4 linked regions of the Homo sapiens genome follow. The protein of the gene in region 1 interacts with the protein of each later gene in a pairwise test. Each region holds a gene or a part of one and is shown in the gene's direction. Other genes may lie near its edges.

What was found.
Region 2: the proteins of ZBTB26 (region 1) and AXIN1 interact in binary tests that used the Homo sapiens proteins (3 or more experiments, as listed by UniProt).
Region 3: the proteins of ZBTB26 (region 1) and ZBTB9 interact in binary tests that used the Homo sapiens proteins (3 or more experiments, as listed by UniProt).
Region 4: the proteins of ZBTB26 (region 1) and ZBTB34 interact in binary tests that used the Homo sapiens proteins (3 or more experiments, as listed by UniProt).

What each region holds. Positions count from the first base shown.
Region 1 is NC_000009.12:122,914,676-122,922,159, reverse strand, and holds the end of ZBTB26 (zinc finger and BTB domain-containing protein 26), read left to right. Parts: intron 1-2,215; 5' UTR 2,216-2,225; coding exon 2,226-3,551; 3' UTR 3,552-6,594; downstream 6,595-7,484. UniProt on the Homo sapiens protein: May be involved in transcriptional regulation.
Region 2 is NC_000016.10:307,204-315,240, reverse strand, and holds part of AXIN1 (axin-1), read left to right. Parts: intron 1-557; coding exon 558-698; intron 699-5,171; coding exon 5,172-5,268; intron 5,269-6,615; exon of another isoform or gene 6,616-8,037. UniProt on the Homo sapiens protein: Component of the beta-catenin destruction complex required for regulating CTNNB1 levels through phosphorylation and ubiquitination, and modulating Wnt-signaling.
Region 3 is NC_000006.12:33,449,598-33,457,575, forward strand, and holds ZBTB9 (zinc finger and BTB domain-containing protein 9), read left to right. Parts: upstream 1-4,978; 5' UTR 4,979-5,178; intron 5,179-5,432; 5' UTR 5,433-5,503; coding exon 5,504-6,925; 3' UTR 6,926-7,947; downstream 7,948-7,978. Other genes in the region: SYNGAP1 (ras/Rap GTPase-activating protein SynGAP), read left to right, coding at 2,163-2,309. UniProt on the Homo sapiens protein: May be involved in transcriptional regulation.
Region 4 is NC_000009.12:126,856,262-126,863,638, forward strand, and holds the start of ZBTB34 (zinc finger and BTB domain-containing protein 34), read left to right. Parts: upstream 1-4,377; 5' UTR 4,378-4,478; intron 4,479-4,917; exon of another isoform or gene 4,918-4,975; intron 4,976-7,330; exon of another isoform or gene 7,331-7,377. UniProt on the Homo sapiens protein: May be a transcriptional repressor.

The sequences.
Region 1 (7,484 bases):
TTCAAGTGATTCTCCAGCCTTGGCCTCCTGAGTAGCTGGGACTACAGGCACGTGCCACCACACCTGGGTAATTTTTGTATTTTTCATAGGGACAGGGTTTCACTATGTTGGCCAGGCTAGTCTCGAACTCCTGACCTCGTGATCCACCCACCTCAGCCTCCCAAAGTGCTGGGATAACAGGCATGAGCCACCATGCCTGGCTTGTTTTTTGTTTTGGTTTTTGTTTTTGTGATGGAGTTTTGCTCTTGTTGCCCAGGCTGGAGTGCAGTGGTGCAATCTTGACTCACCACAACCTCTGCCTCCCGGGTTCAAGTGATTCTCCAGCCTTAGCCTCCTGAGTAGCTGGGACTACAGGCATGTGCCACTACGCCCAGCTAATTTTGTATTTTTAGTAGAGATGGGGTTTCTCCAAGTTGGTCAGGCTGGTCTTGAACTCCCGACCTCAGGTGATCCGCCTGCCTTGGCCTCCAGAAGTGCTGGGATTACAGGCGTGAGCCACCATGCCCAGCCTAGAAAGTAGTGTTTTAAACTAAGGAAACAAGTATCATTAGGTCTGGAGCCAAGAGAGAGCTGTTATGTATCAGGCATTAAGGAATAAGAATAAAACCTGGACTCTGCCATCAGGAGCTGATATCCATTGTTACAGAAGTTAAGATGATAAAGATTGGACTTTGGGGTCCAGATGTGGCCAGGAGAAGCTGGTTGTCTCATCTGACTCTGAACTAAGGGGTTGATTAATACATAAAATTCAGTGAATTTCTTGATGCACTGAGATTATAGAGCTATATCTCAAAGACAGACCTAGCATACCTACCAATCTCATAGAAGACTGGTATATAAAGAGAATGTCAATTCATTATGTCATTAGTTTACAGTGACTAGTGGACTGGAATTATCGTGTTGGCATGGCAAATTTATCTTTTCCCTTGAGAGAGACAAATGGGAAGCCAGGTTATGAGAAAATCATTTATGAGAGTATGGAATCAGAACATGGAGACTTTCACCAAAGGAATTGCTATATAAAGGAATCAGTATGCAGACAGTTTGGGGAAAGATACCTTCTCCATTGTTGAATGGGTTTTTCCAGTGTTTACCTTAATTATGATTGGGTTTCATTAATCAGTTTATATTCAAGAGGTTAGTCTTCATCCAGGAGACAACGGGAAGTCACTGAAGGAGTTTAGGCAGGGGTGGGGTATAATCAGATCTCTGTTTTTGAAAGATGTGGTGGTATGAAAACTGTATTAGAGGGAACATAAGCAGGAAGCCAAGGCAACATTTATGAATCAGTTCTAGTAGTCCACATAATGACTAATGATTGATAAATAGGGATAAAGTTTAAAGAACAAAATCTAATAGGGATTGATTCGATCTATGTTACCGCTACTCAGATTCCCACCATATAGCTCATGTCGTTTTTCTACATCAAGTATCTTATTTTCTTTATAAAGAAGTGTTCCTTAAAACGGAGTTTAGATTTTTCCAGAATGGACAGGACAAAGAACTTTGTCTTTGCCTAAACATTGTCCCGTTAGTTCTGTGACTTTCATTTTATTGCAGAAATACTTGTATGAATAAGTTCATATCAATTTAAACAGAAAAGGGCTTGGCCAGGAATTGGACAAGCAGTGTCAGTGCAGTTGTTTAAAATATAGAGCAAAGAAAAAGAGCAAAGGAACCCATGTTTGCTGTAGGTTCTCTCTTCTTCAGAGACCAGTTTTTACTGAATGATTCCAGAGAGGTGAAAATCTCCATATTAGAGTTCTGAAGTGGGGAGACAATTGCTTTTGCCTTAGAAGAAGCAGGTTCACAGTTTTATATAAAATAAGATAATTATTTCATCTTTACTTGTGTGGGTTATGTTTTAGTTTGCTTTAGAAACCTGATAGAATTCTCATTTGAGAAGTTAAAAGATACTCTTGGACTATCCCAAGCACTATTCTCGTATAAGTATCTTTAAAAGTTGAACGAATGCCAAGCTATTTACACAAATACAAGTCTGCTCTTTAGGTGCAATTGGCACTTGATATTGGTAAGGTGTAATTTTTAACAGCCTTTGAAACCTGTTATAGTGGCTTCCCCTTTCAAGGAAGATTTCATTTGGATACATACAAAACAGATATGACAACACAGATTTGTTTTTGGAAGGTAGATCCAGCTTTCTTAATTGTCTGAGTTTCCTTAAATTCAACCTTTTTACATTTCTGTTCTTTAGGTCTGCCAAAATGTCTGAAAGATCAGATCTCCTTCACTTCAAGTTTGAAAATTATGGAGATTCAATGTTACAAAAAATGAACAAATTAAGAGAAGAGAATAAATTTTGTGATGTTACAGTTCTCATAGATGATATTGAGGTACAGGGACATAAAATTGTGTTTGCTGCAGGTTCCCCCTTCTTAAGAGACCAATTTTTACTGAATGATTCCAGAGAGGTGAAAATCTCCATATTACAGAGTTCCGAAGTGGGGAGACAATTGCTCTTATCCTGTTATAGTGGTGTGCTGGAATTCCCTGAGATGGAACTGGTAAATTACTTGACTGCTGCAAGTTTTCTTCAGATGAGCCACATTGTAGAACGGTGCACACAGGCCCTGTGGAAGTTTATAAAGCCAAAACAACCAATGGATAGTAAAGAGGGATGTGAACCACAGAGTGCTTCTCCCCAGTCAAAAGAACAGCAGGGAGATGCCAGAGGCTCCCCAAAGCAGGACTCACCTTGTATTCATCCATCTGAAGACAGTATGGATATGGAGGACAGTGATATTCAGATTGTTAAGGTAGAATCTATTGGGGATGTATCAGAGGTTAGAAGTAAAAAAGATCAGAACCAGTTTATTTCTTCTGAACCCACTGCTTTACATTCATCAGAGCCCCAGCACTCCCTGATAAATTCAACTGTGGAAAACAGAGTAAGTGAAATAGAACAAAACCATCTCCACAATTATGCCCTTTCTTATACAGGCAGTGATAACATCATCATGGCCTCAAAAGATGTCTTTGGCCCTAATATTCGAGGTGTAGACAAAGGCCTACAGTGGCATCACCAGTGCCCAAAGTGTACCAGGGTGTTTCGTCACCTGGAGAACTACGCCAACCATTTAAAAATGCACAAACTCTTTATGTGTCTACTCTGCGGCAAGACTTTCACTCAGAAAGGCAACCTTCATCGACACATGCGTGTGCATGCCGGAATTAAACCTTTCCAGTGTAAAATCTGTGGGAAAACCTTTTCTCAGAAGTGTTCCTTACAGGATCATCTTAACCTTCACAGTGGAGATAAGCCCCATAAATGTAACTATTGTGATATGGTTTTTGCACATAAACCAGTTTTGAGGAAACACCTTAAACAGCTGCATGGCAAAAACAGCTTTGATAATGCCAATGAGAGAAATGTACAAGACCTCACAGTGGATTTTGATTCTTTTGCATGTACAACAGTCACAGACTCTAAAGGGTGTCAGCCACAACCCGATGCAACACAGGTCCTGGATGCAGGTAAACTGGCCCAAGCTGTCCTGAACTTAAGAAATGATAGTACTTGTGTGAATTGAGTAGGGGCTTCATGCTCACAACTCGAACTGACTGACAATGTGGCAATAGTCTTAGTCTTTTTAGGAGTGATTTTGCTAGTTTGACTTCTCCAAAGCCTCTGTGTAGGTGGTAGGGAGTGAGTCAAAGCACTAATAGACCAGGCAACTTACCACTTGGAGTGGATTTGCCTTACTTTTGCCCTCTCCCATTTTCTGTTTTGAGTTATTTATCTTGTAAAGTCTGTTTTCCTTTCCCAAGGAATAATTCCTTTTGTCTACCTAACATTGACTTATGTCTTAGACTGACACTGTTTTAGGCTTTTCACTAGGCACATTCCGAAGGTACCAACAAGTTAATAACGTCACCTACTCTCCACTAATAGATGCTATGCTAAGAGAAGTGAATAATCTTTCTTTGGTAGAAAATAGGCTGAGATATAAGGTGATATTGCTATTGACCTGAAAATGTGATAGAACTTCTGGTTGCCTATTGATTATTCCTCCATGTCTGATAAATGAATCTGCTTCCTACCATTTGTACTTGTCTTGGAGCTGGCTATAAAGAAGTATGCTGGTTTGTTATGTACTCTTTTCAACAGTATCATAGCCCAACTTCATCTCATTGAATTGTTCACATATACCAGAGTACTCTCTCTTGAGGAACACCTGCAGGCAGATAGTTAGGGATGACCATGAGGAGCATAATCAACAGGGATAGAAGTACACTTATACAACAGCACTTACATGGGCGGTTTCTCTGGTAGCATGTCCCATAAGAGGCCATATGCTTATAATTAATGTGTAACTTGTTGATGCTTTTGAGATCAGGACTGCTCCAGGCACGCTAAAAATGTGCTAAAGTATAGTGGGCTCTCTAAAAAGAGGCTATTTGGGAGTCTCTGAATTTTGTTTCAGAGTTTAGCCATCAGAAAGGTGAGTTTGGCCATCAGAGTTTTGTCCTGTGCACCATAAAAGTCTCTGAATTTTCGTTTCCTCATGTACCTTAATTTCTAAAACGGATGATAAAAGTTAGGTTGGACACAGAAGGGGCAATCAAATTTCTGTATTCAGATACCTCTTAAAGGTACACTGTGCCACCTTGCTGCCTTTGATTGCAAATACAAAGTTAATTTTCAAAAAGGAAAAACAAAACAGCTCTTTTTCCTAAAACACATGTTGTACTTCAGACCTAAAATTCTAAGTCTTATTTGTTTCTCACCCATGAGTTAGATTTAGGTAATAGTATTAGTAGAGTCCTTAGAGAATCTTAAGAGGTCATTTACTCCACCTCTTTCATTTTAAATTGGGGTATCCAAAGCCTGAAGAGGTGGCCTGGCCAATATTGACCAAGGTATAACTAAATATGAGCTAGCATCTTCTTCCTTCTTCTCGCTATCCCTTGGCTTTAAAAGATTTAGTACATGAAGAATAATGCATTAGCAAAAAGCTCCTAGTTTGTGTTTCCCCTTTGTGTCTCCCTGTTGGCTTTCTGAGACAACCTGAATTTTGCCAACAAAATATCGCAGAGGGATTTATATTAATTATTTTTTAGTTAGATGAATATTATATTCTTCCCATCCAAGTGAGTGATTTGCTAGGTTTGTTTAGGGAGGGAAAAAGCAAGAATAATGTGAGAAGAATCTAAATGCGAAGTTGATTTTGTGTGGAAAACTGTTTATTAGTTTCCATCAGGATTTTCTGTTTTTATTTTTGAGCTATGAGAGTGCATGCAGATTTGAAAAATTAGGCTTGCATAGTCAGAGGGGATCTTCAATTGTTATATTTGATACGTTTACATGTATCATTGTTATCATATGTAAATTATCATCATGTGAGTCAGATGTGAAGTATGATTTTTGTCTTTTGTTCAAATATTTAAAATGATAATACAGTTGAGTGGTAAGACTAATAGGTACCTTATGCCTAACATCACTCATTATATGGTCTAATGATGCTTCCTAGCATTGTGATTTTTACATGATCCAGCCAAAGAGTACCAATTCTATGCAATAGTGAGACTCTACCCTGTCAACCAAACAGCATTTTTTGGTATTTTCTGTCAACATCATTTCTTCACAGGGAAATTTCAAGTTGGAGTGCTTCGTTTGCTCACATTCATGTCTTGTTTTTGTTACTGGTTTGAAGACTAAAAGGCACGGGTTCAAATAAGATTGGTCTCTTTGGTTGGAGACTATTTCTGGGTTCATTCAGTTGTTCAAGAAACATTAGTTAAGCACCTACTGTTGCTAGACACTATGCTAGATACTGAGGATAATGAAGGTAAGATTGATATAGTCCCTGCCCTCATGGAGCTTATAGTCTCATGTGGTCTTAGTGAAACAAAGTCTCAATTTGCTTTTATACTAGAAATAATAAAGAAAGCTGCCTTGCTGTATTCGATCAGTTAAAATCAGCAACTTTGTGCTTTTGTATCAGTAAAACATTTAGTTCTCACCTTTTGAAAATGCAAACCACTGAAGTGATTTACAGTCTCCTCCATTTTTGGCTGGAGAGGTGTTCTGTTTCTGTGAGACATTTTTCTAATTTTTGTGGAACTTCACTTTCCTCCTTCTTTGCTTATACGTGTTTGTTAGATTATATTGCAAAGAAGTCAAGTTACTGATATCCAGTATTTTACAGAGGAAGATGACTTTCAAAACTAGTCATATTTCTGTAGAGGAGGAAGATTTTTAAAACCTTTATCATTCAGCATTTGTATTTTATGGATCCCCAGGAGAACTAAAAAGGAGATGACTCTCTACCATAGTTTGGTTTAAAAAAAAATTACTCTGTCAGTTATTTATTTATTATTTAATACTAAACTCCAAACTGAAGTGGCTCTGAGGTAAATCAGATATGATTTTAATTTAAGTTTCTTTATTAGCAGATCTATAAATGGAAGGTGACCAATGTCACTGCTTCTAAAATACTGTCCTAAACAACCCAGAAGATTTTATTTCAGCTCATGAATAGCTGTTCTAAATCTGTTGTATGTTAGACATACTATGAACTACCTCTTCACTTATTATGGGGAAGTTTCCTTAATAAAAGTGTGACGATTAAAGCTCTGGTGTCATTGGTTATTTTCTCACTCTCCCCTCCTTCTATTCTTTTTTAATTGCTTTACTTTGAATACAGGAAGGTCTTCTTTATGTATAGTCTTAAAAATACATATTAAGCATGCTGAGCTTGCCTTCAGAAAAAAATACGAATTAATCAGAAAGTTGTTACTAGATTCATTTACTTCCACGAGAACCTGTTGCTGGAGGAGCAGAGCAACTGCCTTTAAGAATTGGTTCAGAGGCGGCCGGGCGCGGTGGCTCACGCCTGTAATCCCAGCACTTTGGGAGGCCGAGGCGGGTGGATCACAAGGTCAGGAGATCGAGACCATCCTGGCTAACACGGTGAAACCCCGTCTCTACTAAAAATACAAAAAATTAGCCGGGCCTGGTGGCAGGGCATTAGTCCCAGCTACTCGGGAGGCTGAGGCAGGAGAATGGCGTGAACCCGAGAGGCGGAGCTTGCAGTGAGCCAAGATCGCACCACTGCACTCCAGTCTGGGCGACAGAGCGAGACTTTGTCTCAAAAAAAAAAAAAAAAAAAAAAAAAAAGGAATAGAATTGGTGCAGAGGCCGGGCGCGGCGGCTCATGCCTGTAATCCCAGCACTTTGGGAGGCCAAGGCGGGTGGATCACCTGAGGTCAGGAGTTCGAGACCGGCCTGGCCAACATGGTGAAACCCCGTCTCTACCAAAAATACAAAAAGTAGCTGGGTGTGGTGGCAGGCACCTGTAATCCCAGCTACTCGGGAGGCTGAGGCAGGAGAATTGCTTGAACCTGCTAGGCGGAGGTTGCGGTAGGCCGAGATCGTGCCACTGCACTCCAGCCTGGACCACAGAGTGAGACTCTGTCTCAAAAAAAAAAGAAAAAGAATTTCTTCAGTCATATCTTCATTC
Region 2 (8,037 bases), on another chromosome or scaffold:
TAACAAGAGGAGGTGAATCGTCCCAGGAGCTGGGGAGGAACCTCTGCTCTAGGTAGGGGGACAGGAGGTGGCACCACCCACACACACTGTCACATACCGGCCCTGACATCAGTCCCGTGGCCATGCTTGGACTTGGGCACAGGTGCAGAGACGTCTGAGCTGAATCCCAAGGGCCTCATCCTGATCAAAACCCAGTGTCCTCTCCCGACGCGCACTGCAGAATGAGCAGAACATCTGCGTCCCATTTCTAGTACCGTGCACGGAAAACAAACCCAAATGATCACGTGTGGATGCTCTGTGTGTGCACCAAAGCCCCCGCCTAAAATCAGAGGAGAGATCTGGAAAGATGCCCGGTGCTTTAATGCACCCCGTTGAAAAGGACAGAGGGACAAGAGGACAGGTGGAGATGTTGGTCTTTTCTCCATGCTCCTTATTTTCTCCAAATTGCTTGTGTTTTTAATTAATACATTGAGATATTCAGATAACATGAAAATGTGAAATAAAATGAGAGGCTGTTGGCAGGCTGTCACTAACATGCCCTGCTTGCCTGTTTGCAGGTATGGATCCTGGCGGGAGCCAGTCAACCCCTATTATGTCAATGCCGGCTATGCCCTGGCCCCAGCCACCAGTGCCAACGACAGCGAGCAGCAGAGCCTGTCCAGCGATGCAGACACCCTGTCCCTCACGGACAGCAGCGTGTAAGTCCCGCCCCGGATACCCAGTCCCTCACGGACAGCAGTGTGTAAGTCCGGTCCCAGACACCTTGTCCCTTGAGGACAGCAATGTGTAAGTCCTGCCCCAGACACCCTGTTTCTTGCGGATGGCAGCGTGTAAGTCCCACCCTGCTGCAGAGCGCGGCCAGCTCAGAGGGGGCTTCGTGCTGACCCAGAGATGCCTGGGCTTTGTCTTCAGGAAAAGTGTTTCCTGGCTCCCCAGGTCTCAGTGAGAGTGCGTCTGGACATGCAGGCAGGCTGTACCGCAGAGGCTGTCCTCCAAGCAGTACAAGTGAGGGCTCAGCTTTGTGTCGGTTGCTTCTCTCTGTGACCAGGGCTGCTGGGACCTCCCTATGAGGAAGGATCGAGGGTGAACCTAAGACAGTCTGTAGGCTGCCCGGGCTAGAGTTTGCTCTTTGGTTTTCAGAGTCTGGGGTTTCAGCTTAAAGACAGGCACAGGCCAGCTGCCTCACCACTGGCTGTGGCGAGTGATGTGGTCCCTGAGGGTGGCGTTTCTGCCGACGCTGGTGCAGTACAGGGTCCTGTCTTGTCCCTGTCACCCACTTGGCAAGGGGCTGGGAGCAGGAGTGAGGGAAGATGCTGTGGTTGTGCTGAGGCCTGGGCCACACATGTGTGACGCTCGAGGTGACAGGCAGAAGCTTATTCTTTCATTGTCCAGGGAAACCCCATGTGTAGGAACGTGCTTGTTTTATGACCTCTTCCCCTGTGCTTCGCAGCTGGCTTTTTGGGACCTATGTACACCCCAGCCATTAGATGATGCCAACAGTCTTGTTGCAGTAGGGCACTGGCTGCCAGCCTGTGGGGGTCATTTGGGGTTTTGGTTACCCATGAAGCTCAGACCTTCCCAGCTCTGGTCTGTGCGCCACACGCCACCTGCCCACCAGCCATCCTAGCCAGGGCTGGGGCCGAGCCGCAGGAACCAGGGTCTCCCTGCAGCAGCCTCAGCATTGGAGGAAGCCAGCGGCTATGAACTTGTGAGCAGCTGGAGCCCGCGGACCACCACCCTCCATCCCCACTGCGGCCAGTGGTGTCCCAGATGTCTTTCCCGCTTAGCTGGGTTCTCCATGAGGAAAGCCTGGAGATCTGGATAGGGCTGGAGGAGGAGAGAGGGACTTCTCACCTACTGGTGATTCTGCCCATCTTTTTATGAATATGTTTTAAGTGATGGTCCCACTGTATGTACCATTTTTATGGTTCTTTTCATTTTGAGACAGGATCTCACTGTCACCCAGGCTGGACTGCAATGGTGCGATCTTGGCTTACTGTAGCTTCTGTCTCCTGGTCCCAAGCAATTCTGCCTCAGCCTTCAGAGTTGCTGAGGCTACAAGCGTGCGCCACCACGCCTGGCTAATGATTATTATAATTTTTGTGGAGACGAGGCCTCACTATGCAGTCTCGAACTCCGAGGCTCAAACGGTGCACCCACTTCAGCCTCATGAGTGCTGGGATTACGGGCATGAGCCACTGCATCCGGCTGATGATGATGATTATTTTTGTGGAGACGAGGCCTCACTATGCAGTCTCCAACTCCTGGGCGCAAACTGCACCCACTTCAGCCTCACGAGTGCTGGGATTATGGGCATGAGCCACTGTGCCTGGCTGGTTTGTTCTTTTCATTTGCCTGTCTTTAAACATTTTTCCAAAACCTGAATTTCAGATGAGGAGAACAAGTTGTCACATTCTGTTTCTGAACCAGATTCAGCCAGCCCACATTGCCGTAGGTCTTGGCCCCTTGGTTTTTCCCCAGGTAGCTGTGGTAGTGCAGGGGCAGCTCCCTGCCCCTTCCGGGCAGAGCTGCTGTGTGTGGCTTCTCCTGGTTTCTTTCATCCTCGTTTAATTTTGAATCTTCAAAATAAAATGTTGACGTGATTTTAGCAGCACCTGACTTGAGGTTACTGGAGTTGAAGCAGTGCCTGCCGTGGTCCTGAAGCCTCGGGCCAGGTGGTTGGGTGCAGTGCAGCCCACGGAGCGCCTGACATGCATCCTAGCATCTGGTTTCCCTCTTCCCCAAAACTCTGTTACTACAACAAAAAGTAACCTGCCAACTCAGTTTTCTCAAAAAGTCTCCTAATTCTCTCCAAGAAAAGGGACATATGTTTCCTAAAGGGAGGACCTAAAATAAATAGGTATTTTTTTTCTTGATATTCTGTTCATCTTGGTTTGTACTGAAGTGTTTAACAATTTGGAATGTGAAATTGCTACACGTACTCGAAAGCAAATCAGAGGTAAAAAGTGGACAGGTGAAGAGCATCATTCCGGTGGGGCAGCTGCCCTCAGCTTTTGTGCTGGCGGCAAGCTCACAACATTCCACATGGCACTCGAGAGGCTGTGGGCTGTGGACACAGATGTGGGGTCAGTGTCTAATCCACGGAGGCCTGTGGAGGTTACCCAATCCAAGTATCATGTCTAAGAAACCAGTAGGTTGGTGGCTTCAGGACACTTCAACAAACCCCGAGGCAAGTGTTAGGTGAGTTTTAGATTCACTTGTTCCTGACGCCCACCGTGGCTGAGCCAGACCTGGACTCGGCTCACCATTGCCCACAACACTCAGTGGTGCTGTGACAGCCGAGGATGCCTCAGGAGTTGCCGTGTCTGCCACGCAGCCCTGGGTCGGGCGCTCTCTTCAGTCGTCCTGTGTCTCCTGGCAGCTCTGAGAGGCCCCTGGGTGCGGCACGGATCCCTGGAGCTGCCGTGCTTCCGAAGGCAGCTTTTCTTTCTTTCTTCCTTTTCTTTTTTGAGACGTAGTCTTGCTCTGTTGCCCAGACTGGAGTGCAGTGGCACAATCTCGCCTCACTGCAACCTCCGCCTCCCGGGTTCACGCCATTCTCCTGCCTCAGCCTCCCGAGTAGCTGGGACTACAGGCACTCGCCACCACACCTGGCTAATTTTTTGTATTTTTAGTAGAGACGGGGTTTCACCGTGTTAGCCAGGATGGTCTCGATCTCCTGACCTCGTGATCCGCCCGCCTCGGCCTCCCACAGTGCTGGGATGACAGGCATGAGCCACTGCGCCCAGCCCGAAGGCAGCTTTTCTAATAGCTGGGAGAGGGCGAGGGCTTTCATGAAGGATGGTTGTGCGTGAGTTATCTTAACCCTGGGGTAATTATTCAGACCATGTATAATCTGACTTTCGTGTTTTAATGATCTTCTAAAGGGTTCATAAAGAAAACCTGTTGCGGGCTGGGCGCGGTGGCGCATGCCTGTAATCCCAGCAGTTTGGGAGGCCGAGGCAGGCGGATCACGGGGTCAGGAGATTGAGACCATCGTGGTTAACACAGTGAAACCCCGTCTCTACTAAATAATACAAAAAATTAGCCGGGCGTGGTGGCGGGCACCTGTAGTCCCAGCTACTCGGGAGGCTGAGGCAGGAGAATGGCGTGAACCCGGGAGCGGCTTGCAGTGATCCGAGATCGCGCCACTACACTCCAGCCTGGGCGACAGAGCAAGACTCCGTCTCAAAAAGAAAAAAATAAAAGAAAACCTGTTGCTAAAGAGCTACCTTGTGCCTCCCTCAGAGACCACACTGCCCTGCCAGCTCCTGGAGAGAAGCAGAGTGTGCAGCCTTGGCATCTCCTATCTTTCCGTGGGGCACTGGTTGTCCTGGCTGCCCACTGTGCAATCCTGAAATGTTTTTGGTCCATTTAGCAATGCCCTCCAAGGCAGGCACACTGCACAGTGGTCTAGGCCACAAGCAGGGGCCAGCAAACGTTTCCCGTGCAGGGCTGGCAGTGAATATGTGAGGCTTTGCAGCCGCATGCAGTCCCTGTCACAGATTCTTCCCCCACCCTTTAAAAATGTAGAAACCTTGGCCGGGCGCCGTGGCTTGCGCCTGTAATTACTCCCAGCACTTTGCGAGGCCGAGGCGGGCGGATCACGAGGTCAGGAGATCGAGACTCTCCTGGCTAACACAGTGAAACCCCGTGTCTACTAAAAATACAAAAAAATTAGCTGGGCGTGGTGGCGGGCACCTGTAGTCCCAGCTACTCAGGAGGCTGAGGCAGGAGAATAGCGTGAACCCGGGAGGTGGAGCTTGCAGTGAGCCGAGATTGTGCCACTGCACTCCAGCCTGGGCGACAGAGCGAGACTCCATCTCAAAAAAAAGAAGAAAAAAAAATGTAGAAACCACTCTTAGCTGTCAGGCCCTAAAGAACAGGCAGGCACAAGGAGGCTTTGTGGAGGTGCCCAGTAAATACCAGCTAGGAAGACGCGTGGCTGGGCACCTGGGCTTTACCATCACGTGTGAACCTTTGTGTGTACATGTTCCCCTGTGCACACATGGGTGCCTGCATCACCTGTGTGCACGTGTCTCAGTGGTGGTGGCTCACAGGTGTCCTCATCATTGCCTGCTGACCGGCGGTCGGGGCCAGGAGCTCTATTGGCACGGTGCTGGCCCTCCTGCTCCTCTCTGAGTTAACGGCTGCCTCTTTCTCCTGGACAGGGATGGGATCCCCCCATACAGGATCCGTAAGCAGCACCGCAGGGAGATGCAGGAGAGCGTGCAGGTCAATGGGCGGGTGCCCCTACCTCACATTCCCGTAAGTACCGGCTTTGCGGTCCTCAGCCCATCGTCCTCCCCGCTCAGCGTGGGCCTGGTGAACTGGTCCGCGGGAAAGGCACTTGCCTGGCCTCCCACGAGCCAGGCTTACCTCTAGGCGTAAGCGTGTGATCCCAGCAACATCTGCAAGTGGCCAGTCCCTGAGGGCAGCAGGGGACATCAAGTCTCAGGCAGCATTTAGGGCCCAGAGGGAGCTGTTCATTCAGAAGAGCCCCCATGCCCCAAGGCCACACCCTCCCTGGTGGCAGGAAGTGTCTTGCCTTGTGAAGGTGGATGCTTCCCCTCAAGAGGGGGAGCTCTGAGCCTTTCTCAAGACTCAGAGCCCAGGCCTGGCCCCTGCACAGCCCTTGGGGAAAACTTGGTGTTTTTGTGGCTGAACAGTGGTCGTCTCCAGGTAAACGTCTTGACTTTAAAGCTGCCTTGGCTTTCGCTGTTGCATAGAATAATGGCACCTTTGCCCAGTCTCGGGCATGGGGGCTTGGCTGGGCAGTAGGTCATGGAGCTGAGTGCTAGCTGGAGCCCAGCACAGCCTGACTCCGTCTACAGAGCATTCCTGCGCTGATGAACAGATTAATGATCTTTCCTTATTTTGATGGGTTGACTTTGAACAGGAAAGATGTTACGGGAAGATGAGAAAAGTGTTTTCTTTTTTTTTTTTTGAGATAGGAGTTTTGCTGTCACTGCAAGCTCTGCCTCCCGGGTTCACGTCATTCTCCTGCCTCAGCCTCCCGAGTAGCTGGGAGTACAGGCGCCTGCCACCACGCCCGGCTAATTTTTTGTATTTTTAGTAGAGATGGGGTTTCACCGTATTAGCCAGGATGGTCTCGATCTCCTGACCTCGTGATCCGCCCGTTTCAGCCTCCCAAAGTGCTGGGATTACAGGTGTGAGCCACTGCGCAACGCACTGTTAGCCGCGGTGTCTGAGGTTAAACCACGTGACCATCTGAGTGTCTGTGCAGGGAAGTAGGCATTTTGAGAGCACTGACACAGTCTTGGTCAGGATTTCTTAGCCTTTTAGCTTTTCTGCAGACATCAGTTTCCAAGTCAGGAATTTCTTTATGGTTGAAAAGAAAGGATGTTGGTTTGTTATCACTTCTGAGAAGATGCCAGCCAACCCTTGACTCAGGTTTGGCTAAAACTAGGCACTGATGGTGTCTACTTAACAAAAAGTGGCTGACACTGTAGGCTGTGTGTGGGTGCGTGCGTGTGTGCGTGCTTGTGCTGTGGAAGATCTGGGGCCCTGCCTGCCAGGCATGGCCCAAGGCTATCATGAGGTCACAGCCCAAGTCGAGGGCACCTGCACAGCCACCGGCCTCTGATTTTCAAGTCACAGGTCCTGAACGTCAAGAACCCGCGGAGCCGCTGGGATGACGGAGGCCCGAGAGACAAGACAGCTGAGCAACCACAGGCCCGGAACAGCCCTCTGTGCCCATGAGGACGGGGCTTGAGTGGGCTGAGGCCCGCGGGAGGCTTCTGTCCACAGGGGTGCCCCGATTTTGGGGTGCTGGTCAGAGTCTTCGTGTGTAGAAAGTGCATGCCACAGACTCTGGATGAGGGGGCATCAGGCAGACAACCTCCCCTCAGAAGGGTCAGGAAGGACAGAAGCTGTGGAGTGCGTTGGTGCCTGGAACGTGGACCTGGAAAGACCTCTCAGGATGCAACACAGAGAAAAGAGGATGCCTATGGCGAGTCCCTGGTGTCGTCGTCAGAACCTTCCAGAACCGAGGGAAGCACAGAGCCCTCAGGTCCTGGAGGGTCACATTTGAGTCGCCAGGAAGATGAAAGCCAACAGAGGCGGCAGGCACAGACAGGAGCAGGCCCTGCTGCGTTCCGCACCCCCAGAGGGCCCTTGTGTGGTGGGGTGGGGGCCGCAGTGTGCGTTTCTGTGTGAACAGTCTGCAGCAAACAACCTCATCGGAGGCTCTGTAGGAACCTGCATCAGGTCCATGTGGCCTGTCAGGTGGGGCTGTGGTTGGAACCTTCGGTGGGAGGTCCCTCAGCCAGAGGCCCAAGTGAGAAACCCACATCACGGGCACAGCTGCCCGGGGCCTGCTCACTGCTGCTACTGGGAAACTGGACCCGAGGATGGTGGTGAGCAGAGGCGGGGGGAGGCCCAGGAAGCCGATAAGCTAGCAGGACGTGCCGTGGTTGCACTGCCCACTTCTGCTCTGTTGAGGGCCTTGGTTTTGCAAAAGCTATGCCGTTTCTCTGGTGAGTCCATGGCTCTGCAGCAGGGACAGCAGGAGGGGAGTAGCTTAGACGCTCATAGGAGCAGAACCCTGTTGTGGCTGCACCCACGGAGGCCCAGGCTGTGTGCACCTTGTGAGACTCTTTAACACCTGCCCATCAGAGTTGGAGCAGGTTCATCCCGAAAAGCCCCCTGCCCCCACTGTCCATGGAAAAATTGTCTTCTACAAAACTGGTCCCTGGTGCCAAAAGGTTGGGGGCCGTGGCTTTACAGCATCTGGTACCAGAATGCGTGCCCTGCGGGGAGGGGCCTCTTCATCTTTAGCCTTTACAATTACTTGGAAGTTTCACGTTTTCATTTACTTGGCTTTTTCCTTTATGATATTTTTTTCTGTTCCTCTAAAGCTGGAGAGGTTGCCATTCTCTGTAAATCTGATGACTCTGACAGTTTTGCTGTTCTCAGAACCGTGGTGACGCAGCCTGCAAGGCCACCTGGAGTCTTTTTATGGAGCTCGCGTGGCGGCATGAGTGCTCCTGTTGGCCCCTCAGCCGTGCTGCTCTC
Region 3 (7,978 bases), on another chromosome or scaffold:
AGTTTAGAAATGGGGAGAGACATCCTCCTAGATCAGATCGTGGGCTCAGTAGGCATGTTGATTCCCAGGGAGAGGTGCCAGGAACAGCATGGTAAAGAATGTACTCTTCACAGCTCACATCCCCAGGTTGCTGATGCCACTCACTCCCCCTCTCCTGCCATCGAGTGGCCTTGCCGGACACATCACCCTACCTAAAAAGCCAGTAAATGAGAACCTGTCAGCTATAGCCATCATTTCTGAGATGCGATTTTCTTTGGGATTGAGCTGCAGTGGGCAGTGGCTCCTTACACTGTAATTTTAATTCTCTGCCTGCCCAGCCTCTCTGTCAAAGTAGCTGGTGATCTATAAAGATGCTAAAAGGCACCAGGGGACTTTGCCATTTAAAGGACTCCTGCAGTGAATTCTTTTGTAAAATGAATAATGGCACCCTAATTTATCCACTTTCTAAATTTGGGTCCATGGGGGTGTCCAGGGCATGCTTATGTGCTGTCACCAGCAGACAAACAGAGGGAATGGAATCTGGGGGTTCCTTCCCTGCTCTCCCGCCATACTCAGGATACCCTACCATAAGTGATTTCCTCTCACTGACTTGCAGAAAATGTGTGAGATACCCAGCAAGCTAAGAAGGCAGTTTTGCTGGGTATCTCATACCCAAGGCTGGGGTTTGGGTGATCTGAGAGGTTAGCTCCTTGATCCTAGGATGGAAGGGAGAGCTTATATAGAAGCTTTTACTTGGAAGGTTTTGTATCCTAAGGTCAGACATAGCTATATTACCAAGCCTAAATGCCATGTGGCCCAGGAAATAATTTGGACATTTGTTCTAAACCACTTGTGGTAGGTATTGGTCTCTCTGCAACTCAGCCATTAATTAGAAATTAGTTTTGAGCCTGAATTTTAAAAAGCCAAGTGTTGCCCCCAGCCCACACACACACACACGGACATGTACAGTACAAACCCCAGATAATTACAACAGCCAAAGAGAGAAGGAAGTGAATTTCCCAACCAGAAGCGTAGGGAAATTCAGATGGCTTTCTTTTCTCCCAGCAGAGGAACAGAAGGCGGAGCTAAGGGCAGGAACCAGGAGTTGGTCAAGGAGCTATAGGAGGTGATGAGAGTAGAACCAGGGGTAGGAGCTGGTCTGGTACCCCTCACCCTCTAATTGGGAGCCCAGGGAGAAGGACTGAAAAGAAGATGGGAGTGGAAAAGAATAAAGCCAGTTTCTGCTTCCCAGGGATGCAGAGATTGGGGCATGCTGTGTCTGCAGAAGCTCCTAGTCATTTCCGCCATAATTGTGAGAGAGAGGGGCAGCCCTCCCACAAGATTTTTCCCTTCCCATATCACTTCCCTGAATCCCCTTCCTTTCCCCCCAGTACAGTTAAACCTCTCTCTAATTTGGAATGTTATATTTGAGAAGATGGCCACTGTGAATAAGTGACAAACGGAATGACAGTGTCTATTTAATGAAATGCATGTCTTCAAAATATATACAGAACTCGATGAACAAGGCTTTTTCCACTCCTCAGGGAGCATGCATTAATGAATAGATAGGATTCAAAAGTCTGTTTTCTGGTATGGGTTAAATATCCCCTCCTACAGACATATTTCCACCACTAATTTGCTTAGTACACCTTTTCTTCACAGATAAAGGAAAATGCAAGCTCAGTTTTTCTTCAGATTATGAAGAAATTCCAAATCCACAGGGGTTTGGATTAATGAGGTTTTGCTGTACTGCCTCCCCTTATTCCTCAACATGAAGTTCCCACCTCGGATTGGGGATGGGTGGGAGGGGGTTTCAAGAGGAGGAGGGTGGGATGGGCAAGGAATATACACAGGTGAAGCCAGAGAAGGGTTAGGTTGGGGGTGCGGTGGGAACTTGCTGTTTTGATCTGGTTTCCTGGTGTGACACTCTGGGTTAAAGGCTTGAAGGCCCCTGTTAGGAGTCTAGGGGTGAGATTCTCTTCTCTCTGATCCCAGAGGACGTTAACTTCTACTGCAGGTGAGAAACAAAATAGGAGGATGGTGGGGACTGTCCTGGGAGGAGGGGGTGGTCCATGGCTTGTGGTGTGGGCTGGCTATAGGGGAGGCCACTGCTAGGGGACTGGCATCCAGGCCCCCTTGAAGCGTCTCAATAAGTCCGCGCTCTCCTTTTTGGTGTCTTGCAGGAGAGGCAGCTTCCCCCCTTGGGTCCAACAAACCCGCGTGTGACGCTGGCCCCACCGTGGAATGGCCTGGCCCCCCCAGCCCCACCACCCCCACCCCGGCTGCAGATTACGGAGAACGGCGAGTTCCGAAACACCGCAGACCACTAGCCCACCCAGCATCAGAGACCTTCTCTTCCTTTCCTGTGCACCCCACCCTGTAACAGCACCAACCACCAGGATTGGACATCACCGAGGAACAGCGGGATTGCCTCCCCGAATGCCTCCCTGGGAGGCACACTGATTGCCCACCCCCACCACTGCACCATTTCCAGGAGGGAGAGTGGGGACCCTCAGCCGCCCCCTTTTCCTTCCCATTGGGGTGCTGCCCTCTCTTTGACCCCCAGGGACCCTTGCCCCAGGACACCGCCTACCCCGTACAGACCCCTTCACTCCGGGGTGCTATCCCCATCCTCTGCCTCATCGTTCCCCTGAGCACTGGGGGACAGACCCTCACCCCCACCCTGGGGGTGTGGCACCTCCAAACTTTCAACTTCAGGGTGATTTTTTTAGCAGTAACCAGAGCTGACAATCTAACTCCCCTCCACCGCCCCATTTTGGCCTCCCCTGCCCCCCTTGTTATGGGGAGGGGACCCCGGGTGAGGGGGCCCTATTACCCCTTGATTTCTCAGGAGCGTCTGGGGGGGCTCAGCACGCACAAACTCCTTCTCCTTCTACCACTCTTAAATTTACTCCCTCCCCACCCAGAACCCAGATGGGGTGGAGGGGGCCACCGGGGCAGGGAGGGGGCGGCAAGGGGGGAATGGGAGTTGTCTCCCCTTCTCCCCACACCTGATCTGCTCTCGGCTGGTCCCAGAGCGGGGTGAGGGGGCTTATGCCCCCCCCTCCCCCAGTGTGTTGGGTGGGGTGGAATTGAGGTTAGGGTGAGGGGTCAGGGTTTAGGAGGGTGTGTATGTTGGGAGGACAGGCTAGTTGATCTGTCCTACTCTGACACACAGTCCCCTCTGCCCCTTCCTTCTCTCTTCTTGGTCTCTACTCCCAGGGGGAGGGGGGAACTTACTCTAGGAAAAGCCATGTCTCTCTCCCCCAGGGTGGGGGGACCTGTGTTGGAGGAGGGGTGTTGGGGGGCCCCCTTCCATGACTCTGTCCCCTGGGGGAGGTAGGACAGGGCTGGGCTTCCCTCTCATCCTCCCCCTCCCAATCTCCTTCCACCTCCCTCCCTCCCGCCAGCTCCACGATTTTTCGGTGTTTCTCTGTACATAGTTTTCTGGCGGGATAGGGGAGGTAGGATGGATGGGGTTTGGGGTGGGTAGGCCATGGGAGGGGAGAAGCCCCTCCTTGGCACCCCCTCTTCCCTGACTGCTGTCCCCTACCCAGCCTTGCCCCCTTCATCCTTTTGCGTTTGGTATTGAGACTCTCCTAGACTCTACTCCTCTTTCTTTTGTATGGACAGTTCCCCTTCAGTCCCATCCCCCTACACATACACCCAGCCGGGGCCAAATTTATACTTATATAAAAGTTGTAAATATGTGAAATTTTATCCCTGTGCCCTTTCCCCACCTCAGGCCCTACCCCTGGACCCTCCCCAACCTTCCTTCTCTCTTCTTTGGCTGTTGTAATTATCTGGGGTTTGTACTGTACATATCCGGGGTGTGTGTGTGTGGGCTGGGGGCAACCCTTCTGTACAGAGCTTCCTGGCCCCCTCCCCCCCCGCCCCTCTGCTTCCCTCCCCACCCACCACCTCAAGGGTAGGGAGTTGCTCTTCCTACCTGTTTTATTTTGTTTTCTCGTTCTCCCTCCCCACCCCACTCCCAGCCTTATCTATCCCCCCTCACTGTCCCCTTTTCTCCACTCCCAGCCCCATTTCCTTTTTTTCTGGAGTGTGTGGTGAAACAGAAAAAAACATGTTTAATAAACGGAGATTGTTCTTTTATCGCTGTGCCGACTTTCTTAGGCAGGGCTCTCCAGACCTGTACGGTGGTAAGATCTGCTTTCTGAAAGGAAGCTGACAGCCTGAGAGGAAAACCGTATATCCCCACCTGATGCCACACTCTCCTCATAGAATGTCACTCTCCCCTCCCAATGAGATTTTTTATATTTTAGAGCAGGAGTTTTGCACCGGCCAAACTTCTCCAATCTAACTCTCCCCTCACCACTGTGTCACTTAGTCCGAGGCCAGGAACAGCGGCGTTATCTGATAAAAGAGTTCATGTATATATCCACATTTATCTCTTTTAAAAATTACCTAGAAATAAGGTTTCTTTAATTGCTGGTTAAAATGCTCCCGTGCAGAAAACAGGAAAGAACCTGCCTGGTTCCTTAGCAAATCTGAGTTCCAGTCCCAGGTCCACTACTATTAGCTGAGTGACGCTTCCAGCCCGTTTCCCCCGCCTGGAAACTGAGGACGGCAACCCCCACCCTCGCAGGGCCGGTGGGAAGACACAAAGTGATGTGGGCAAGTGCCAGGCCCACATGGTAAGTACCCAACTAATCTCGCCCCTCTCAGGACCTACCGGGGGCGGGTGCTACACTTAATCACCGGGAAACGCAGCTTTCCGGGGCGGCTGACGGCCCACCCCCTCCGACCGGGCTGTTCTCTCCCGGGCCCTGCCTCTCGGTCCTCTGCAGCGGGGAGGACTTCAGCAGCTCCCCGGGACGCCCGTTGCGAGGACACCCTGGGCCTGTGCCCTCCTACTAGCACCGCCCTCCTCGTCTGCAGTAGCCAATCAACACGAGGCTTGTAGGCTGCCGTTCCTCGATTGGCTACGGCTCTAGCTCCGCCCGCCGCACTTGGCGACGGTGTCCGGCGGGGAGGCGGCGGCTTCCGGTCTGGGACGGAGCTGTAGCGGCACTGTAACTGCGAGGGCAGCGCCGCGTGTGTAACGGCGGGGGCGTGTCGGCGGGAAGGACAATCGGGCCGGGACTCGCGGTGTCCGGGTGACCGCGGCTTCCCGGGAGCAGACCTCTGTGGGCACTGTGAGGCGGAACGGAGCGGCGGGGCAGGAGCTGTTCTGGGCAGGTGAAGGCAGGCTGGTGGCTGAAGGACCTCCTTCTTATCTTCCACAGGGGCTGGAAGTTAAAACCCCTGTTGGTGTTTAGTGGTGGTGGTTGTTGTTGTTGTTTGTTTTTGCTTTCTTGGTGTGCGGGACTGATTTGCAGAAACCGCCACTGACTTAAAAGTTTCCAGTTATTGCTCGTGGGGAGGGGGTTGTTTGAGAAGATGTGGCTCCCTTTATCCAGGGCTTCTGTGACCTCCATCTTTTTCCTCTGCAGCCTTCATCCCGCGTGGAGTCTACCCCCAAGCCCTTCTCCTCTTCCCAATTCTTGTCACCTTCGAGGAGGCCATGGAAACCCCAACACCTTTGCCGCCTGTACCCGCCTCCCCGACCTGCAACCCAGCCCCACGGACAATCCAGATCGAGTTCCCACAGCATAGCTCGTCTCTGCTGGAATCTCTGAACCGCCACAGGCTAGAGGGAAAGTTCTGTGATGTGTCCCTCCTGGTGCAGGGCCGGGAACTTAGGGCTCATAAAGCAGTGTTAGCTGCTGCCTCTCCTTACTTCCATGACAAGCTGCTTCTGGGGGATGCGCCTCGTCTCACTCTACCGAGTGTCATTGAAGCCGATGCCTTCGAGGGGCTGCTCCAGCTCATTTATTCAGGGCGTCTCCGCCTGCCACTGGATGCTCTTCCTGCTCATCTCCTTGTGGCCAGTGGCCTTCAAATGTGGCAGGTAGTAGATCAGTGCTCAGAAATTCTTAGAGAATTAGAAACTTCAGGTGGTGGAATTTCAGCCCGTGGAGGAAACTCCTACCATGCCCTTCTTTCCACTACATCCTCTACAGGAGGCTGGTGCATTCGCTCTTCGCCTTTCCAGACCCCAGTACAGTCCTCTGCTTCTACTGAAAGCCCTGCTTCCACTGAGAGCCCTGTGGGAGGGGAGGGAAGTGAACTGGGAGAAGTGCTGCAAATTCAGGTGGAAGAAGAAGAGGAGGAGGAGGAAGATGATGATGATGAGGACCAGGGGTCAGCCACACTCTCTCAGACTCCTCAGCCCCAGAGAGTATCAGGGGTTTTTCCCCGTCCTCATGGACCCCACCCACTGCCCATGACTGCTACTCCCCGAAAGCTTCCAGAGGGTGAGAGTGCACCACTTGAGCTTCCTGCCCCTCCTGCACTGCCCCCCAAAATCTTCTACATTAAGCAGGAACCCTTCGAGCCTAAGGAGGAGATATCAGGAAGCGGAACTCAGCCTGGAGGAGCAAAGGAGGAAACCAAAGTGTTTTCTGGAGGGGACACTGAAGGGAATGGGGAGCTAGGGTTCTTGTTGCCTTCAGGGCCAGGGCCAACATCTGGGGGAGGGGGTCCATCCTGGAAACCAGTGGATCTTCATGGGAATGAAATCCTGTCAGGGGGTGGAGGACCTGGGGGAGCAGGCCAGGCCGTGCATGGGCCTGTGAAGCTAGGGGGGACACCCCCTGCAGATGGAAAACGCTTTGGTTGCCTGTGTGGGAAGCGGTTTGCAGTGAAGCCAAAGCGTGACCGGCACATCATGCTGACCTTCAGCCTTCGGCCTTTTGGCTGTGGCATCTGCAACAAGCGCTTCAAGCTGAAGCACCATCTGACAGAGCACATGAAGACCCATGCTGGAGCCCTGCATGCCTGTCCCCACTGTGGCCGTCGGTTCCGAGTCCATGCCTGTTTTCTCCGCCACCGGGACCTATGCAAGGGCCAGGGCTGGGCCACTGCCCACTGGACTTACAAGTGACTGCTGAGGCTATACACTAGCTTCTAGAACAAGATAACCACTGCTGCTGATGGATACTTTTCCCTCACTGCCATGGCACACCAGTCATGGATCTTGTAATCATGCCAAGAGAATAGATACATTATGGACCTCTTGTTCTTAGATATGGGCCTCTCAGCCTGGCAGATGTGGAAACTCAAATTTCTCGTCCCACTCCAGGTTTTGGCTAGCCAACCCTGCAGGAAAGTGGTTTATAGGCCATTCATACTTAAGTTGATCACTTGCCCATGGTGGACATTTTTGTGGTGGTGATGTCCATTAAGGAAACCAGATTTTCAATTATTTAGTGAGAGAAGAGTTAGAGCAAAAGACAGTGGTAAATGTTTTATTCCGTCTCCATGAGGAATTGAAGGAGTTGGTCTCCACCTAGAGATACATTTGATTTACAGCTTAAGTAATTCAGAGGCTAAGCTCTAAGCTTTTTTCTCTCATTGCTGGAATGATTTAAGCAGAAGTCCTTTTGTGTACTTTTAAAATTGTATCTTTCCAGGAGCCCCTCAGATTGTACCTTGCTTTCTCACCAATAGACACCTTCCCGACACTTTTTTAATGTTGTAGCTGAGCACTTTAACAAGTTGAGCATTCCATGTTTCATTCTTAGAACCTTCTTTAATAGAGGGTCTTCCCTCAACAGCCTGTGCCTCTGGTCTACCTTTGACCACCACTGATAACTAATATATTGGTCACAATGACTGGAATGTGACTAGTGATCTCAGGAGATGGCACTGTCCTAAAGTGCTGTCAGGGTGGCACCACTGCTCTCTGAACAACTTACCTTGGTCAGAGGGACTCAGGTTTGGGACAGCACAAGCTGAAGGCTGGAGAGTAACTTGCATAGTAGGACCATACCTCTTCCTTTCCCATCCCACCCACATATGATAGACAGCCCCTCTGTTGAGATATGGAGGGGACAGATACTGGAATCGGGGGTGGGACTTGCAGTTACTTAAAATTTTTTAATAAACTGTGCCCTGAAACCTAAACTGACAGTGGACTGGATTGAGTAATTTGTGT
Region 4 (7,377 bases), 3.9 Mb from region 1:
GGAAGAAGTCAGACAAGTTCTCATCCTCATGGAGTTTACAGGCTAGTGGTAGGAGACACAGCTATTAAACACATAATTATACAGGTAATTAATTGCCATTGTGATTACTACAAAGAAGTGCAGAGTGCCAGGAGAGTCAGTTAAGAGTGCTGGAGAACCAGCAGGAAACCAGGAGGGCGCAGACCAAGAAGAAAATTACAGAGGGGAAGAACTCCAGAGGCAGCACCTGGGCCCAGCGGGTGTCAGCAGGGCTCAGGTCAGAGAGAGGCAGGACCTGCATGGAAGCTGAACAGGGGAGGCAGGCGGAGAGTAGAGAGCAAGTCATCTCTGCAGGAAGTGAGGAGTGGCCTCATGGAAATGGGTGGCGGCTCTTGAGACCATCCTTTCTCCCTTTCTTTCCTCCCTTTCCTTCCTTCCCTTCCTCCTTTCCTTTTTCCTTTCCTTTCTTCCTTTCTTTTTTTTTTTTTTTGAGACAGGGTCTTACTCTGTTGCCCAAGCTGGAATGCGGCGGTGCCATCAGAGCTTACTGTAGCCTCAATCTCCCAGGCTCAAGTGATCTTCCCACCTCCCATCTCAGCATCCCAGAGTAGCTAAGCCTGTAGGTGCACACCACCATGCCTGACTAATTTTTGTAGAGAAGGGGTCTTGCCATGTTGCCCAGGCTGGTCTTGAGCTCCTGTGCTCAAGCAATCCTCCCACCTCAGCCTCCCAAAGTGCTGGGATTACAGGCGTGAGCCACTGCACCCGGCCTTCCCTTGCTTTCTTGCTGATCAAAAATATTTATTGAGTATGCCATTCTGAAAACATTAAATTATTATCTTATTTGCCCACTGAGGTAGGTACCATCCCCGTTGCTACACAGACAAGGAGGCCAAGGCTCAGTAGGGTCAAATGTCTTGCCCCATCTCAGGTCACAGAGGTCTTGTGTGGCTGAGCTGGGGTTTAGACCTGGATCTGCCTTATTGCTTAGCCACAGGATTCTCTACTGCCCGGTCTTGATCACGGAAAAGAAGCTCTTCAGATCACACCCCTCAGCCTCACCATCATCTAACAGGTGAAGAAGAGAAGCTCCGAGGGGTAAACCAACTACCTGGTCCCCATTGTAAAGGTGGTGAGTGTCTGAGGGTTCTCCAAGGAAGTGCTCTCCCTGACCCATGAGGAATGTTCACCCTCCTCTGCAGAGGCAGCCAGGTAGAAGGAACCCTGACCTACTGGAATGATCTGGAAGTCAGTGGACATCTTGGGACTGTTTGGAGAGACAGGCTCCCCCTTCGACGGTACTGTTCAGGTAGTGAGGCATGTGGAAGGGACACACTAGTGGGTCCTGATTAGAGGAGGAAGAATGAGGAAACCGCAAATAATTCATATATTTTGTTTAAGGGAGACACATGAGTTATGTGTGTGTATAAAGACTAACAGGTGCCAACAGTCAACAGGTTTTGCCAAACTCTGAGGATTGCCAGGTGGACCAGAGCCAAGTCCTGCAGCTGGACTTCTGGCAGAAAGGGTCCCTTGTGGAGGCCAGAAGGAGAAGCTGGGACCAGTTATAACCTGGCTATCTTGGCTCTCCAAGTGCTCAGGAATCTGGAATCAATGAGAAGCGGAGATTCAGGCCGTATCTGTCCAAGGAGGGGGAGAAGAGGAAAGAATGGGAAGGGAATTAACTTTTACGGCAGACTCACACATGCCAAGCACTTCACAGGCTACCTCAATTAACACATGACATGGCGAGGAGGCTGGAGATGTGTTTTAGCCATGTGCTGTGGAAGAAGAAAAGGCAGAACACAAGTATTGGTAAGCTATCAGCCATCACCCTCACATAGGCTGACCCCCACGATGGGAAGCCCCACACCTTTTTTTTTTTTTTTAAGAGAGGGTCTTACACTGATGCCCAGGCGGGAGTGCAGTGTGGTGATCATGGCTCACTGCAGCCTTGACCTCCAGGGCTCACGCGATCCTCCACCTCAGCCTCCCAAGTAGCCGAGACCACAGCCACGTGGCACCACACTCAGCTTTTTTTTTTTTCTTTTTTGTAGAGATGAGGTTTCACTATATTGCCCAGGCTGGTCTCACACTCCTGGACTCAAGTGATCCTCCTGTCTCAACCTCCCAAAGTGTTTGGGATTACAGGCATGAGCCACCCCACCTGGCCAGAAAACTCCTTCTTAACTGTGGATTGAAGGGCAACCCCAAACTTCAACAAAATGTGAATTGGATCATTTCATAAATGCTGCTGAGGAAAATGGGTAAGTGTGGAATAAATTAAAATGAGACTTGTACATCACTCCCTAGACTTCTTGATTTCAAGGGAGCTAACGAGTTAAATCATTTAAAACTGCCACAAAGATTATGGGAAAACAGAAACACATATGCACCTCAACTGTGGAGGAGTGACAGTTTTTTAACTAAAATTAGTAGAGACCATGACAATCAGCTAAACAACAAGAACGAAAAAAGCAAGGGGCTGGAAAAATATATAAATGATGAGTTTGGTGACCCAGTTAGGTGGGAGAGTAAATATAAACTATGAGGGAAATACCCAGCATCCAATGGACAGACAGAGGGCCAACAACTTTGAGACACTTGGCAGAGGAGGGTCAAAAACTCAGGAACTATTTTAGTCTTTATAGTACTTAATGATATGCAAATATTGTGTCACAGCCAAGAAGACCCTAACTCTTATCAACGAATTTAGCAAAAATCAGTTAAAATGATGAGGCCCAAGGCTGATCTGTAGGAAAACCTCTGGGCATAAGAATCAGCTCAGCAGTCCGGAGGAAACCTGACAAGATGATGTATTCCTGTGCCCTGGGTGCACACGTATCTCACCCTTGGGGACAGATCTCAAGAAAACAACTCAAGTGCAATAGCAATTCAAGAGCGAGACTACCTGTCTGCCCAGGTGCCTGCAGTTATAGGCAGGTTGCCTAAAATCCTATGCTTGGATGTTCTGTTGCTATAAGAAGTCAGAGAGACAAGGGAGTTCATCCCAAGTCTGCCATTTACTAGCTGTGTGACTTTGGATAAGTCACTCAACCTCTCTGAGCCTCAGTTCCCTCTTGGATTAAAATGGGAATAGATCGCCACCTCCTTAGGTTGTGTTAAATGAGGTCATGGCTGTCAAGTGTCTACACAGTGCCCTGCATGGAGTGTTTGACAAAGGGTAGCTGTTGCTATTGGAGGATGACCACTGGACAGATCCTGGAGAGACAGTTCCTGCTTGCAAAGGATGAAGTAACATCAGGAAGTCTCAGCAGCTTTCTATCCTGAAGAGGAGCTGGTATCTTTGCCTCCTAGTTTATTTTTATTACAAAGCCAGAAAAAGGAAAATAAACCTCTGCCACAACTACTGACTCCACCAAAATGCAAAGGGAAGCTCTTCAAAGAGTGTTACATTGGTCTAATGCTGGGAGGAAAACGCTGGGTGAGGCTCCCACTCCCACCCAACGGTTTGAAGACTGGGGTGTCCCCAAGGGTCTGGAAATGCACATTTTTTGAGGCATGCTCTGTGACATGGGTTTTATAACAGTGAGTTGGGAATTTTCACCTCCGTTTTGTTTTTGAGACAGGGTCTTGCTCTTTCACCACTGCTGAAGTACAGTGACACGATCATGGCTCATCGCAGCCTCGACCTCCCGGACTCAAGCGACCCTCCCACCTCAGCCTCCCCAATAGCTGGAACTACAGGCATGTGCCACCAAGCCTGGCTAAGTTTTAAAAATTTAAATGGGGCCTCCCTATGTTGCCCAGGCTGGTCTCAAACTCCTAGGATCAAGTGATCCTCCCGCCTCGCCCTCCCAAAGTGCTGGGATTACAGGCGGGAGCCACCTCCGTTTTGAGAGAGAGAAAACCTGCCCAAGGTGGTAAGTCAAGAGACCCCCTATGACAGGTCCCCAGAGCCCTGCTGCTAACCACTGCACCTTGCTGCCTTCAGCTGCCCTGCCAGGAGCAGCTCGGGTGCGTGGCATGCGCCTGAAGAGATGCAGGAGGGAGGGTCTTGGAAGGGAGGGCTGGGCTGGGGGCAGGCCCCCCAGTGCTGGGGGGGTCGAGGGTCCTGGGCTCTCTCCCACCCGTTCGATTCCGGGAGCCCCTGAAACGCGCCCCACTGCACCGCCCTTCTCCCGCCAGCAGGGGGCGCCGAGGAGAGCGCGGGCTGAAGGCAGAGCCGACGCCGCTTCCCGGAGTCGGGACTCCGGGGTCCAGACCAAGGCTGCCGCTAGCCCGCGGCGAGGCTCTGGGACGACAACCGGGCGGGACTCAGGACCCCGGGCCCTGGCTAGAGGTCCGCCGCGCAACGCCACCACCCGGGTTGGCGCCTGCCCGGAAGCGCGGGCGTCCAGGGGGCGGGGCCGGGAAGCGCTTCCGGGGGCGGGGGGCGCGGGCTGGGGCGGCAGCCGGAGCGGCGGGGACTGGCCTGGCGCCGGCGGCGGCGGAGGGGGCGCCGCGGGCGGGCGATGTGAGCGCGGCGCTCTGGACAGGTGAGGCACGCTGGCCGGGGGCGGCGAGCAGCGGGCTAGGCGCGGGCGGGGCAGGCGGGGCAGGCGGGGCGGGGGGCAGTCCCCGGGCCGCTGTCCGGCTCCCTCTGGGCGCGGCGGGGCGGGAGCCTCCGCGCCTGGTCAGTCCCGCGGGCAGGCGGCCGGCGCGGGCGGGAGCCGAGGCCGGGCGGGGTCCGGAGGCCCCGGGCACCTGCTGGGGTCAGGCGCGCGTCCCCGAGGGGCCAGCTGTGCTCGGTCCTGGAGTCCCGGCGCCGCTGGCCCGGCTGAGGGTCGCGCTCGGGCAGCTGCCCTGGGCTCCCAGCCTCCGCCCGGGGCGTCTCGGGATCCCCAGCTTCCGGGCCCCTAGCCCTGGGGGCGCTCCCTTTTGTACGGGGAGGGAGGGCAGATGGTTGAGTTCCCTGGAGAGCCGGCCGGGCCAGGGGTCGGCCCTTCGGGTGGCTGCCACGGAGCCGCTGCCTCACGCCACCGCCTTCCTCCAGGTAAACAGGCGGCGGCGACGGGTTGCGCTTGGCCCCAGACGTCTCCGTGGCCACTCGCGCTCAGTTGGTCCTGCCATTGCGGAGGGCTGGGCTGGGGCTGACCGGGGTTGTAAACAGTGCCCTTCTAGGCCAAGTGGCTGTGCTTTCAGGGCGGCACTCGTCTGGGAGTCTCTGTCTTGAGGCCTTCCGCAAGCCCCTTCCATGCTAGGACTCAGTTTCCCCATGTGATCATTGAGGGTTTCATTTAACTCTCTAAGAACCCTTCTGGCTCTGCCATTCCGTGTATGTCTCAAATTGGAAGGGCTGTCCCTGATTCAAGATACTGGGCAGTTTCGCTGAAGACTTTGTCAGTGTGGACTTTTTAAGCCACTTACTGCATTTTGTTTCAGACAGGCTTTAAAATGATTTCAAGAAGCGTTTTCTAAACCTCACCTTAATCCTCATTCATCCCTTGCTTTTGTCCCTAGTAGTAGTTAATCACATTCCGCCGAGTTTTTGCATGCAGAATTTTTTGTTGTTTATATTTGCCCATTTTCTCTTTGTTCCCTAGTCCAGGCCCTCTTTGCTTCACATCTGGATTATTGCAACAGCTTCTAAGCTGGTCGCTGACTCCAGAGGTTCCCCCCTCCCCCATCCTTCCTTTATGCTAAAGCCAAACTTACTATAGGAAGTCAAAAAATAGTTGAGTGCTTGCTTGCTTATTAAATGGCAAGATGCTGTTCCATGTGGTGGGAAAGTAGTAGAAGGCACACTTACAGTCTCCAGGCAGCTTTACACAGGGTGCTGAGACATTACTTATGAAAAGGTAATTTTGATGAGACAAGGCTGTGTGCTGTAGAATTAAGAAGGAGAGATGGAGGTCACTGTAGGCCGAGTGGTTAGGGAGGGTTTAGTGAGGGGCGGGATTTGAGCCGGGTGTTAAAGGATGAGTAGCATTCAGATAGGAAAAGAGGAATCAGGCCCAGTGATCCTATGGAGTTAGTGAATAGACCAGTCTCCTGGCAGAGAAGGGTTCATATAGGAGGGAAGTAGGAGGAGAGGTGGGCCGCGGCTAGTTCCTCAACTCAAACACTAGGTCAAAGTTGAAACTACTGAAGGCATTGGTGAAGAAGCTAGAGGCCAGGAGATCAGTTAAGAGGCCACGGCAGTTATACCACTGTTCAAAGCTGAGTAGTGGCCTCTTGCCTGCCACGGTATGTCCAGCCACCGCCCACCCTGTCTTTTCAAGACTCTCCGTGGTTTGGCCCCACCCCACCTACCTGAACCTTATTCTCTGCTTCTCCAAGTCTGTCCCCTGCAGAACTGAGTTAGTTACGGCTTCTTGGGTTTTGCTTCTGTTGTTCCCCCTTCTGAAGCACTGGCCTCCTTTTTCTTTTCTGTGCAAATTCTCCATTTCACTTCCTTCAAGCCCCTGCTGCAGATATACTTCCTCCAGAGGGTGTTCCCTGACTTCCCTGCCCCCATGGCTTTGTGGCACTCGGATTCAGCACTTGTTCCTTGGCTGTTGAACTTGTTCTTGTCCCAACTGGAGTGGGAGTTTTTTTAAGGGCATTGTGTCTTAATACTCCTCTCGGAGACCTTATAGTATCTAATACTGGGGCTGGACTTCTATAATAGGTACTCAAATACTTCCTGATTTTTGTTGGTAAACAACTTTTTGTTTTGTTTTGTAATTTGCCTTTTTTTTTTTTTAAGGAGAATCTGTTTTTATCAGCTTTCTGTGTCATAGATAAGTGATATGTAATGCTACCATTCAAGGTGGATGTTTTCAGCTTGCTCTCTTAGGGTGCAGAAAGCACAAAACGAATCTTTGAAACTTTGAAACGTTTCCCTCTGATCATGGGAAAAGGTAAAAGTCATGTGATTCTTCATTCGGAGGCTGTGGGGAAAGAACAGCAGCTTTGGAATCAGAGACCTGGGTTTGAATCCTAGCAAGTCTGCTTACCAGCTCTGTGAAGTTGAGCAATTTATCTAATGCCTCTGAGCCTCCGTTTCTTATTTGCAGTGTGGAGGATAATAAAATCCAATGAACTGTAAACGAAAATGGAACGAAGTAGAAAAATGTGCAGCACCTAGTAACTGCTTAGTACATTTTCATTATTGTTATTGTCATTATTGGGTGTACATTTATCAAGGTGGAGAAATGATAAGCTGCTGAACTGTGTACCTACTGAGTTTTGGATTTCTGCACCGCTGTGTCCCCCCACTTTTGCCTTCCATTTGAAGCACTTGTCTAAAATGTCAGTACCATGAATCTAGTTACGTTTTATTCCCGTTAATGTTCATGTTACTTTAGTTTAAATTCTGCTTAATGTTTTTCAAACTTCTTAATTGTGTCTATTTAATGTTTTGTAGCTGACAAACTGCTGAATTTAGCTTAGTGAAGGTCATCAACTGAACGC